2 separate regions of the Homo sapiens genome follow, and region 1 is linked to region 2. Evidence: fine-mapped expression QTL. A gene starts in region 2. The other region holds a variant in brackets. All regions are shown on one strand. Distances are from middle to middle.

The links. PIP is the estimated chance that this variant, and not a neighbour inherited with it, causes the effect.
Region 1: its variant is fine-mapped to the expression of KYAT1 in whole blood (TOPMed, PIP above 0.99).

The regions. Positions count from the first base shown.
Region 1 is chr9:128,831,890-128,834,898 of GRCh38, reverse strand. KYAT1-SPOUT1 (KYAT1-SPOUT1 readthrough) reads left to right here. Exons shown (of 25, transcript NR_182311.1): 12 at 1,073-1,159; 13 at 1,256-1,672. KYAT1 (kynurenine aminotransferase 1) reads left to right here. Exons shown (of 13, transcript NM_004059.5): 12 at 1,073-1,159; 13 at 1,256-1,957. The coding sequence ends at 1,315. Among named protein-coding and RNA genes, the nearest start is that of SPOUT1, 3.6 kb to the right of the region's middle. The variant C/A (reference allele first, on the strand shown) is at 1,656.
Region 2 is chr9:128,880,926-128,883,425 of GRCh38, reverse strand. It overlaps KYAT1 (kynurenine aminotransferase 1), which reads left to right and starts at 1,476. Exons shown (of 13, transcript NM_004059.5): 1 at 1,476-1,529. It overlaps KYAT1-SPOUT1 (KYAT1-SPOUT1 readthrough), which reads left to right and starts at 1,476. Exons shown (of 25, transcript NR_182311.1): 1 at 1,476-1,529. It overlaps LRRC8A (leucine rich repeat containing 8 VRAC subunit A), which reads right to left and starts at 1,293. Exons shown (of 4, transcript NM_019594.4): 1 at 1,176-1,293. RefSeq lists a silencer at 947-1,226 and an enhancer at 1,257-1,406.

The DNA.
Region 1 (3,009 bases), 49 kb after region 2:
TCCCAAAGTGCTGGGATTACAGGCGTGAGCCACTGCTCCTGGCCTTTTTTTTTTTTTTTTTTTTTTTGAGACAGAGTCTCACTCTGTCGCCTAGGTGGGAGTGCAGTGGCGCAATCTCAGCACACTGCAACCTCCACCTCCAGGGTTCAAGCGATTCTCCTCCCTTAGCCTCCTGAGTAGTTGGGTAACTGGGATTACAGGCATGTACAACCACGCCTGGCTAATTTTTGTATTTTTAGTAGAGACGGGGTTTCACCATGTTGGTCAGGCTAGTCTCCAACTCCTGACCTCAGATGATCCACTCCCCTTGGCCTCCCAAAGTGCTGGGATTACAGGCGTGAGCCACCGTGCCTGGCCTGAGGAACCTGTTTCTAACTTGCACAGAGATGCTGTGTGGGCTGGCAGGATTTCCTGCCTCTTTGGATCTCCATCTTCCCATCTGTACAGTGAGGAGTTGGCCCATTAACTCTTGAGTTCATCCAGGTTTGATCTGTGACTCTAAGGCTTTGTTCTTCTCTGGCTCTGCCCTGACCTGCTCCATGATCCTCCCTCTGTCAGCCTCCCTCTGCCCTCTATACCCAGGGAGGGACTTGGAATGATGTTCTGGGATTCTTTTCTTCTGACTTTGTGTTTGTTTTTGTTTTGGATGGATTTTCTCTCTTTCGCCCAGGCTGCGGTGAAGTGGCGCAATCTGGCTCACTGCAACCTCCACCCCCGGGTTCAAGCAATTCTCCTGCCTCAGCCTCCCAAGTAGCTGGGATTACAGGCATGCGCCACCACACCCGGCCAATTTTTGTATTTTTGGTAGAGACGGGGTTTAGCCATGTTGGCCAGGCTGGTCTTGAACTCCTGACCTCAGGTGATCCACCCGTCTCAGCCTCCCAAAGTGCTGGGATTATAGGCGTGAGCCACCGCACCTGGCCTTGTTCCTCTGACTTTGATGCAGCTCTAGGTGCTGGATTGGAGCTAACTCTCCTTCCCCGCCTGGTCGTGGGAACCTCTCTGTCCCCTCCGGAGCCAAGGCCTGCTGGGCCACGAGGCCGTGTTGAGACATGTCCTTCCTCCTCCCCAGGGCTTGGTGGCCATCCCTGTCTCCATCTTCTATAGTGTGCCACATCAGAAGCACTTTGACCACTATATCCGCTTCTGTTTTGTGAAGGTAAAGGGCAGGGCTGGGGGAGGAAAGACCTCACAGAGCTTCCCAAGGCCGGCTGGGCACATGGGGAGAGTGTAGGACTAATCTGTGCTGGCGCAGGATGAAGCCACGCTCCAGGCCATGGACGAGAAGCTGCGGAAGTGGAAGGTGGAACTCTAGCCCTGAAGTCACGCCTTGGCCCTGACATCCCCACATGCCCGCAGAGATCCTCTTTGAGTGTCTGTCTTTGTCCAGGTTTCAGACATTTCTAGGTTGGGGAAGATGCTATTGGGAAACCTCTTCTCCGTGACACAGAATGTTCTGGGTGGGAGCCGCCCTTCTTCATCTTAGAGAACCAAGTGCCTCCTGTCTGAAAGGTGAGGGTGGCCTGACCTGGGCCTCTCCCTGCCCCTCCATAGGTGGGTTTGTAGGGTCTTGTGTTGCTTCTGGTCTCTCCAGGCTTGGCTGAGACGGACGGTAGACTTCCACCATGTACCGATCACATCCCAGCTCTGCATGG[C/A]CCCTGCTAAGGCTCAGGTATAACCTCACCTTCCCTGGCTCATCTTGGCCTTGGGGAGTTGCCTTTAGGCTTGAGTCCTCAAGCCTCTCCTTTTCGTCCATAATAAAATGTTTAAGTTATTAAGATCCTTATTGACGGCTTCTCTCTGCTTCACACTCATGCTGATGGCTGATCTAACTTGTGAAGAATGCCCAGAAGAACCTCAGACACCCCCACAACTTTGTACAAATGGTTACTGTAGTCACATAGTGGCACAACCAGGCCTAGCACCCAAGGCCCTCAAATGAATTCCTCACTATTAATCTTTGTTGTTGTTGTTGTTGTTGTTGTTGTTGTTGTTGTTGTTTTTGAAACAGAGTCTCGCTCTGTCCCCCAGGCTGGAGTGCAGTGGCATGATCTTGGCTCATTGCAACCTCCACCTCCTGGGTTCAAGCAATTCTCCTGCCTCAGCCTCCTGAGTAGCTGGGACTACAGGCACCTGCCACCACGCCCGGCTAATTTTTGTGTTTTTGTAGAGATGGGGTTTCACCATGTTGGCTGGGCTGGACTCAAACTCCTGACCTCAGGTCATCTGCTCGCCTCGGCCTCCCAAAGTGCTGGGATTACAGACGTGAGCCACCATAGCTGGCCTCTCATATTAATCTGATGGTAGCAGTTATTGGTGCTGGGTGTGGTGGCTGGGGTGGGGGTGTCATATGTGTTTGTGTGTGTGTGTGTGTGTGGAGAGGATTGGGGTTCGTGACAAGGAAGACATGGACATTCCCACAGGGGTGAGAGAACAGCACAGTGGGGGCCAGGAGGACCAGGGACTTAAATAATTCTCAGGAGGAGGACTGAATGTTGATCGTGCAAGCCCTACCTGCGAGGCACTCAGACGCACATCATCTTACACAACCCTCTGAGACTGAGACCTGAGTTATCTCCAGTTCACAAGAGAGGAAAGCACTCTGGAGGTGAGGTGAAGTGGTGTGCCCAGGCCTTCTAGCTGGCCCCGATTGAGTCTCACTGGATAGCAATAGTAGCTCCTGAATTTCTTTGGAAGGTGGTGTTAGGGGCCTGGTCTTGAAGTTGCATTTGCATAGCAAGCGCATGGGTTTGGCTCATATCATATGTTTAACTGGGGGAGCTGATAGGAATATATCATATAATAAAATACATATTTGGTGTTTGCCCCTGGTCCTTAGTAAAGAATTCCTAAAATCCTTGGAGTTTCTGGAAGATAGGCATGTCTTGTTAGTCACATGGAATCCCTCTGCACTGTACGATTACGGGGTCAGAACTTTTAGCCCATCGGGCCCCCTCCATCTCTGCCTCCATGGAGGTGTGAGGGACTAGACTTTGAGCCCAATCACAT
Region 2 (2,500 bases):
CACATCCCCTCCACAGGAAGTATCAGCAACAGCCGATCTCCTCCCGCTTCTTACAGCCTGTCTGTCTGCCAGGTTGTCTGCTCCAAAGGGCAGAATACAGTTTGGCAGGGGTTAAGAGTACTACTAACAGAAGAGGTGGAAGAGGTCCTTGGGAACTTCGGGCTCCCCCAGTTCCCTTCCTCTTACCAGGTGCTCTCCCTCCACACCTCATTCTCAAAAGGCTTCCTGAGGTAGGGCAGGGGAAGAGGAGTCAGTGGAAGTGTGGCTCACCCAGGAACCGCCCACCCTTCCAGCCAAGTCTCCATCAGGAGGCGGCTACCAGACAACCCCCGACCCATCCCTCCTTCCCAAAAAAGGCAACAATCGCAACAGCTGAGAACCGGCAGACCTCGGTTCACCCCGGTCCAGATCAAGGGGAAGAAGCAGTCAGCGAAAGCAGCAGAATCATCATGAACTCCATGACCCCAGCTATGCCCCTTCAGCCTGGGAGCTCAGTTTGCTGGGTATCCAGCTCACCTAGGGCTGCACCAGGCCTGGACCTCACTGGATCTCGCCTCGCCCTCGGGCCCACCTGAATGCACAGGACTGGGACAGGGTCTGGGTTCTTAGATTCCGGACCGGTCTTCCCAAATATCCCATCCCAGAAAGGCCCCAAGAGCCTAGCCGGGGATCCTGCCCCCAAGTCAGGGCACTGCCCCCATCGGAACGATAGGAAGGAGGGGTGCAAGGGAAGAGAAGGGGACCAGGAACTCAGGAGAAGACAGCTAAGGAAATCTTTGAAAAAGAAATGGCAAGGAGAGAGCCCAGAGGTGGAACCTCTAGGAACGGGAGAGTGTGTGTGGAGGGGTGAGGATCTGGGGGGACCCAGGGGATGACAAGGGGACATGGGGGAGCCGAGGCGGAAACTCCTGGTTTCTGAAGCACAAGGAGGCACAGGGGTGCCTGGGAGGGGGCTCGCGCGCCGCGGAGCCGGCGAGAAGGTGGTGCCCCGGAGACTCCGGGCACTGGGGAGCCCAGAGGTAGGCCGAACACCGCGGGAGGTCCCCAGGGGGCCGGCCCGGAGACAGAGCCCCAGATGCCCCGGGCGCCCCGGGCCGGGCAGCTGGCCGAGGGCGTGTGTAAGTGGGTTTCGAGAGGTGACAGCTCGCGCCCCTTTCCCCACCCCGTCCACTCACCTGGGCTCGCCGCGCCCGGCCGCCCGGCAGGCAGCCCCAGGCCCCGGCCGCTCCGTCCCGCCGCCGGCCGCAGCGCTGCTCCGGCGCCTCCTTTTGTTTGTCCCTCACTGCACCACTCAGCCTCCTCCGCCCCGGAAGTGACGTCACCGCCGGGCGCGAACGCGGCGGCCAGGGCGTCGCCATCTTTATGAGGAGAATTCTAGCGGCGCTTTCTCCCGCTCTCGCCTCCGCGCTAGCGCCCTGCTGCTTCGGGGCGGAAGTAGCGGAGCCGGGCTCGGCCCCCTTAAAGGGACAGGGACTGCTGCAACCTACGGGGTGTACTTGGGAACGAGGGGTGAAGCGGCCCAGGTGAGGGTGAGTAGCTGTGTCGGAGCGCCACTTCCCCAAGGTCAGGTGCCGAGGCTGGGAGGGTCGGCTAACGGTTCCGAGCTTGGTTGTGCTAGAGTGCTTAATGAGTTTGATGCTACTAAGTATAACGGAGTGGCTGCACAGAATGATTGAGCCGCCCGCGGGAATCAACTGCGCGTGCTGCTCGCTGATTCTCGCTCGGACACTGGGGCTGGTCCTGTCTGCACCCAAATCCCCCTCCCACGACCGCGCCGGTGGAGATGATACCCGAGACAACAGAATTCTGGACAGATCTGGGGTTGGAATTGGGTCCCCAGACTCCAACTCTGCAGCTCCATAAATCCCGCTGGGTCCTCGCAAATTCCCTGGCTGATAACAGTACCGGCAACCAAATTAAAAAATAATCCATACAGTGGAATACTGTGCAGCCATTAAGACGAACAATGTTTAATATGCACTAATGTAGGGTGACTTCTAAGATACCTTAGGTTAAAAAAGGAAACAACAGTAAAAACAGCGTTGGGCCGGTTGCGGTGGCTCACGTCTGTAATCCCAGCACTTTGGGAGGCCGAGGCGGGCGGATCACGAGGTCAGGAGATCGAGACCATCCTGGCTAACTTGGTGAAACCTCATCTCTACTAAAAATACAAAAAAATCAGCCGGGCGTGGTGGTGGGCGCCTGTAGTCCCAGCTACTCTGGAGGCTGAGGCAGGAGAATGGCATGAACTCGGGAGGTGGAGCTTGCAGTGAGCCGAGATCGCGCCGCTGCACTCCAGCCTGGGCGACAGAGCGAGACTCCGTCTAAAAAAAGAAAAAACAGCGTTGATGGGTGCTATCCATCTTTGCGTAGAAGGACGCCTGAGGGTGGGCGTATCTGCGGGTGTGCGCGCCAGCTGTCTGATAAGATGCACAAGAAGTTGTTAATTGCGGTTGTCTCCGACAGAATTGGGGTCTTGGGTACCTGGGCCAGGGCGAGA